Linked DNA regions of Homo sapiens. The gene in region 1 interacts genetically with each later gene. Each region holds a gene or a part of one and is shown in the gene's direction. Other genes may lie near its edges.

Evidence for each region. Genes that interact genetically often act in the same process or in processes that back each other up.
Region 2: changes in RAB2A (region 1) and SEC24C together harm fitness less than expected from each alone (positive genetic interaction), as found in Homo sapiens cells (one large-scale study listed by BioGRID).

What each region holds. Positions count from the first base shown.
Region 1 is NC_000008.11:60,617,844-60,621,080, forward strand, and holds part of RAB2A (ras-related protein Rab-2A), read left to right. Parts: intron 1-736; coding exon 737-805; intron 806-2,830; coding exon 2,831-2,926; 3' UTR 2,927-3,237.
Region 2 is NC_000010.11:73,764,753-73,768,410, forward strand, and holds part of SEC24C (protein transport protein Sec24C), read left to right. Parts: intron 1-698; coding exon 699-837; intron 838-1,047; coding exon 1,048-1,163; intron 1,164-1,333; coding exon 1,334-1,458; intron 1,459-1,597; coding exon 1,598-1,789; intron 1,790-2,007; coding exon 2,008-2,101; intron 2,102-2,301; coding exon 2,302-2,418; intron 2,419-3,084; coding exon 3,085-3,255; intron 3,256-3,658. UniProt on the Homo sapiens protein: Component of the coat protein complex II (COPII) which promotes the formation of transport vesicles from the endoplasmic reticulum (ER).

The sequences.
Region 1 (3,237 bases):
AAGAAACCTCATACTCATTAGCATTCTCTCCCCTTTTTCTCTTCCATCTAGCTTCTGGCAACCAGTAATCTACTTTCTGTCTCCATGGATTTGCCTATTCTAGACATTTCGTACAAATGGAGTTGTAGTATTGTGGCGTTTTGTGTCTGCCTTCTTTCATTTAGCACAGTGTTTTCAAGGTTCATCCACATTGTAGCATGAATCAGTACTTCATTCCTTTTTATGGCCAAATAATATTCTACTAATTGAATATCTCAAATTTTGTTTTTTATTGACTGAACATTTCTGTAGTTTGCACTTGTTGGCTGTTGTGAATAATGCTGTTTGTAATGCTAATTAGCATGTGCGTACATCCTTTGTTCTTAATCTTAGGGGAAAGGCTTTCAGCCTTCATCTTCGAATATGATGTTAGATGTAGTTTTTCTTAGATGCCATTCTTTAGATCAGGTTGAGGAGTTCCCTTCTATTTCGACTTGAGTGTTTTTATCATGAAATGTTGGATTTTGTCAAATGCTTTTTCTATGTCTATTGATGATCATGAGGGCTTGTTTATTAATATAATGTATTACATCGATTGTTCTTTATTAATATGTTATTAATATCTTTGTTCTTTATTAATATGTATTACGTCGATTGACTTTCATATGTTGAATGTTATGATATTCTATAGAGCATATATAATGTTATTTTACTGCTTTGGTTTTATATAATATGAACCAATTTCTCTATATTTCAGGCATTTATTAATACAGCAAAAGAAATTTATGAAAAAATTCAAGAAGGAGTCTTTGACATTAATAATGAGGTATATACATATAAATATTGTTGGTCAATATTAATTTAGAGTTCACTTTTGATTACTATTTTATATTTTTTATTTTATAATTCATTATTTTATAATTTTTTTAATTCCTAAAATCAATCATGATAATCAGTTAACACCATTAGTTTACAGTCATCCAACTGAAAAATTGGTATATGTGGTATAGTAGTTAAATATTTATGTTCTAGTAGAGCAACACTTTGTCTATGGAAATGGATTAAAGTAAGTGGCCCTATCCATTCATTGCAAGCAATGCAAAATAATATAAATCCCCCAAAGAGAAAAGAAAATCCACTTTTATCCACATGACCATATGGTGTCATCTGCTTTGGGAATAATGTTCTGGTATATAAATGCATGTACTATGTACTAATGCAAGATGCTCTCTCTGTTATCTGGCAGGAAAGAGGGAAATACCAAATTTGGAAATTACTCCCAATATAGCATAGCATGTTTTCAGGAGACTAAATTCATATATATATATATAAAATTGGCATTTGGCATAGGGTTTTTTGTAATGTTATTTTGATCCTGTTTTGGTCAACATGATTAGGATAAAATGTAAAGCTTTGAAGCATCTAATTCAGAGTGTTCACCAAAGATCATCACTTGACCCACATCCCCACTCTGCATTTATCTGTATTTATTTCAAAATGTTTATGTGGATGTAGCCTACTTATTCTTACATAAATATTTTTGCCATTCTGTATTAAGATTTCTGGCTTCTGAAAGAAAAGCCCTGGTTTCTCCCCAGTTGCAGTTAGAAAAGCATTGTGTTAGGAAGCCATTATGTATGTCTCTCTCATCCTATACATAAATGAGGCTCTCTATTACTTCAGTAGTCTCTGCTCAGACAAACAGCAGTTTACCTAAGGTTTCCAAAAAGTACATGATTTTTTCATTGTTTAATTTGGAGTAATATAGTTTCTAAATCCTATCTTCTAGGCTTATATGACGGTACTTCTTGAGTTAGTTTAAAGGTGACACCATTCAGAGACTAATGCCATATAAATTGAACAGTAATTGGGCCTCTATCTAAAAGGGCACATTCATTGTTTCTGTCTGGTTTCATATAGTAGCTGACTGCTTTACTGTGCCTTATGCAGCTTTGATTGTAATGTGCTGTTGGGAGCCAACAGGCCGTGCTATTTATTTGGCCTAATGCCAAGTCTGACTCCTTGACTCCTCAAGAAGTTGCTACCAGCCCAGAGGGGGCAAAATCAATGAGCCATAGGGCATGCTTTTTATTAAAGAGGAGTCAAAAGAGCGAAAAGAAACCACATCAGCTGCTGTCAATACTGAGCTAGTGCCAGAAACCCCAAGGCTACTACTGTTGCAGAACAACTGCCAAGCACTATAAATCTGAGATTTACTGTGACGTAAAGTTTCCTTAAGAGCTTAATTTCTGAAGCTACTGTATTACTTTTCTCAAAGTGTTGTATTTTTAGGTAAAATCCACTTGAGGGAGTGAGGGTTAAGACATAAGTGTGAGTTTGATGAATGAAAGAACTACTCTGTGTGTGGGTTCTTGGCAAGCTGCCATGTCTTTGGGGATCATAGAAATTATTGATGACACAGAACACTCATATGCCCTTAGCCTGTACAGCTGATTCAACATGGAACAGAAACACTGTCTAGAGAAAAGATTTTACGTTGTATTAAAGCAGCATGGGCTTTGGGTATTTTTATGCTTTAAAGATTACTTGCAATAATTATTTTAAATGATTTCTGCATTATGAGAATTTCCTGAAAAGCAGCATTATCCAATAACTGTTTACCCCGTACCTGGTATGATAAAGAATTATTTTCAGAAACATTTCCACAGTGTTTTTAAAAGGAAGGAACATCCCTTAGGAGATATTGTTTTAATTGTTGCTAAAATCTACTTGCTGTATTTTTCTCAGTTGTTTGATAAAATTGTATCATAAAGAATTAAATGAGTTTTTTAAGAATTAGTTAAACTATATTGTCTGGTCATATTTATTGTTCTGTTCTCTTTTATTTCAGGCAAATGGCATTAAAATTGGCCCTCAGCATGCTGCTACCAATGCAACACATGCAGGCAATCAGGGAGGACAGCAGGCTGGGGGCGGCTGCTGTTGAGTCTGTTTTTACTGTCTAGCTGCCCAACGGGGCCTACTCACTTATTCTTTCACCCCCTCTCCTCCTGCTCAGCTGAGACATGAAACTATTTGAAATGGCTTTATGTCACAGAAGACTTTAATCCGTCAAATTCTTGTATAACTTTGAATAAATGGTTAATGTTCACTTAAAAGACAGATTTTGGAGATTGTATTCATATCTATTTGCATTTGATTTCTAGGTCAATTGATGTGATTATTTTTGTTAAATGTTGTCTTGTGCCCTTAACTACGAACTGAATTGTATTAAACACTACAAAGTCATCTTGAGTA
Region 2 (3,658 bases), on another chromosome or scaffold:
CCCCAGTACCTGATACCAGCATGAAGAGAGCGAGCCAGGCAGCTGCTCCACCAGGCCTTGGTAGGATACTCATATTCAGCCTTGCTTATCTTACGATAGGGTTCTCTGTTACTAGAAGCCAAAGGCTCAGTTTATATTCTGCTTATCTCTCCGTCTTTCTCTGTGTGTTTGTCTATTTCTATCTGGGTCCCATTGGGGATAGTTGGGCACTGGTCTCTTATGTGTAGGGTGACATTTGCCTGGGGCATCAGTAACTGGCACAGAATCCCAGGGATACGGGAGGAGGTGTTACAGATATTTGGTTAGGGAAGGAGCTGGAATCAAGATTCTTAGAGCAAGAGTGAAGGGCATTAGAGATGGGGCCAGAAAGGAGAATCCTAGATAATCTTGGCTTTCTCCCTCATATGCCCATGGCAGCCCCTAGTCTGATATGGCCGGTTTTGCATTTCCTCTTCTCTTTCAGTGAGAAATGCAGCTCTGGGGGTGGGATGTAGGAAGAGGGAACTATATAATTTTTACTCATAGGGACATTTTCCTGTGATTTGTCTTTACTCCCTTTCATCATTGTGCTCCCTACTCCCTCTGCAGACAGAATATCTGCGCCATGCGCCTTCTTCCTCCGGTTGTTCTTCCTCATCTCCTGGCTGAACCTACTGTGGTTTTCCTTTATGTCTGATCCCTTCCCCTTTGCGCCTTAGGCTTCACCGTATGTTGTGGACCATGGGGAATCTGGCCCTTTGCGCTGCAACCGCTGCAAAGCATACATGTGTCCCTTCATGCAGTTCATTGAAGGAGGGAGGCGTTTCCAGTGCTGTTTTTGCAGCTGTATCAATGATGGTATGTTCATGGAAGCTGGGATTTGGGGGAAGGTCTTGATTGTATCTTCCTTGTTCTCTATTAAATAGTTAGAGAGATGAGGGTCCATCTTTCAGGAGCTGGGGAAGTAGGGCACATGGGAATGAGGGATAGTGGTGTGAGCTCAGCTAGGGCCAGAATACTAAGATTGAAACTGGATCTTCGAGTAACACACTGCCATGCTTCCCACAGTTCCCCCCCAGTATTTTCAGCACCTGGATCATACCGGCAAACGTGTGGATGCTTATGACCGCCCTGAGCTATCCCTGGGCTCTTATGAATTCTTGGCCACTGTAGATTACTGCAAGGTGAGGGAAGGTAGCATGGGAGGAGCAGTGAGTGGAGGATAATGAGACAGCTGAGAATGGCTGTTATCATTTCCCTCACCCCTTTTTTGTCCCTTTTTGATGCTGACTTCTCTATAGTCAACTGGCCTGCTTACCATTCCCCCTCTCCCCAACATTTTCTTCCTCTGCAGAACAATAAGTTCCCCAGCCCTCCTGCCTTTATCTTCATGATTGACGTCTCCTACAATGCCATCAGGACTGGTCTTGTTAGGCTCCTCTGTGAGGAGCTCAAGTCACTGTTAGACTTTCTACCTAGGTGAGAGTTACAGAACTGAGGTGTTTCCTGAGGTTAATGATAGGGTGTCTGGGTTGACTGAAGAAATGTAGCTTGGTGTCATGAAGTTGTGGGTGGTGGAAAAGGTGGCAAGTCTAGGTAACAATGTCACCTTCTACAGGGAGGGTGGGGCAGAAGAGTCAGCAATCCGCGTTGGCTTTGTCACCTACAATAAGGTGCTCCACTTCTATAATGTGAAGAGCTCATTGGCCCAGCCACAGATGATGGTTGTGTCTGATGTGGCTGACATGTTTGTGCCACTGCTGGATGGCTTCCTGGTCAACGTCAATGAGTCTCGGGCAGTTATCACCAGGTAAGAGCCAGATTGTGGAGGTAAAGGTTGGGGGTGGCATGGGTACCACCATAGAAGGTCATGGAGTTGAACAGAGGTATTGGACAGTAGATGGAAAGGGGTTGTGGCCCAGGAGTTGTCAGATTCTAGAGGCTTGATGACTCTTCAGGGAATCGAGAACTGAGGTATCTGGAATCTGTATAGCAATTTTGGTTGTTTTCCGTCACCTATCTCTTTAGCTTATTGGATCAGATTCCAGAAATGTTTGCAGACACAAGGGAAACAGAGACAGTATTTGTACCAGTTATCCAGGCTGGAATGGAGGCTCTGAAGGTAAGGCTGGAGTATCGGGCAACCTCCTCTAACTCCATTTTCCTCTGACCATCTTATCCCCTGGGATACAACCTCTCTTTCTTCAGTAGTGGGTGACTGTCCAGTGTGTTAGACTGTCTGACATAGCTGGTGCTTAATAAATGACAAGGGAAGAGATGGATGAATAAAGAATAAACAAGTAGTCCTCTCTTTTTTCCTAGGCTGCTGAGTGTGCAGGGAAGCTCTTTCTATTCCATACATCCCTGCCCATTGCAGAGGCCCCAGGGAAACTGAAGAACAGAGATGACAGGAAGCTGATCAATACAGACAAGGAGAAGGTGTGGGACTGGAAAATGGGGGAGGGGAAGGATTTTTCATTACAGAGGAAGTGGGGACTCTACTTTCTTGATGGTGGCTAGGACCAGACACTCCACCCTTTCAAATACCATATCTGTGACTGCCAACCTCCACTGCTGCCATACTTCTCTACTCCATCTGATGCCAAAGCTGTTGGTAGACTCTTGTATTTATTTATTTTTTAAAGAAGAACTTTTGGCCGGGCATGATGGCTCATGCCTGTAATCCGAGCGCTTTGGGAGGCCAAGGCGGGCAGATTTTTGAGGCCAGAAGTTTGAGACCAGCCTGACTAACATGGCAAAACCCCGTCTCTACTAAAAATACAAAAATTAGCCAGGTGTGGTGGCACACACCTGTAATCCCAGCTACTTGGGAGTCTGAGGCAGGAGAATCGCTTGAACCTGGGAGGCAGAGGTTGCAGTGAGCTGAGATCATGCCACTCTATGCCAGCCTGGGTGACAGAGTGAGACCCTGTCTCAAAAAAATAAAAATAATATAAAAGAAAATTTTTTACTATTGGAAAATCCTTGGAAGTAGATCTGAAGTCTTCCATGAATTTGAATATCCCATGCTAGATATACAGTTTTCAAATAGGGCGGAGCTGAGATATTTGAACATTTTCTTCTCCCCATTTTCTTTCCCCCTAGACTCTGTTCCAGCCTCAGACAGGTGCCTATCAGACCCTGGCCAAAGAGTGTGTGGCCCAAGGCTGCTGTGTAGATCTCTTTCTCTTCCCTAACCAGTATGTGGATGTGGCCACACTCTCTGTTGTGCCCCAGCTCACTGGTGGCTCTGTCTACAAATATGCTTCCTTTCAGGTATGGTGTGGGATTTGGGGCAGCAGGTGGCAGCAGGGCTGGGAATATCTGCTTATATATGCAGTGGCTGACTCATTAATAGAAATAGTGTTGGGGCCAGGCACGGTGCCTCACACCTGTAATCCTAGCACTTTGGGAGGCTGAGGCAGGCAGATCACCTGAGGTCAGGAGTTCAAGACCAGCCTGGCCAACATGGCAAAACCCCATCTCTACGAAAAATACAAAAATTAGTCGGGTGTGGTGGCGGGCGCCTGTAATCCCAGCTACTCAGGAAGCTAAGAATCCCTTGAACCCGGGAGGTGGAGGTTGTGGTGAGCCGAGATTGCGCCACTGCACTCCAGCCAGAGCGACAGAGTAAGACTCCGTCTCCAAAAAAGAAGAAATAGTGTTGGAAGAGAAGACT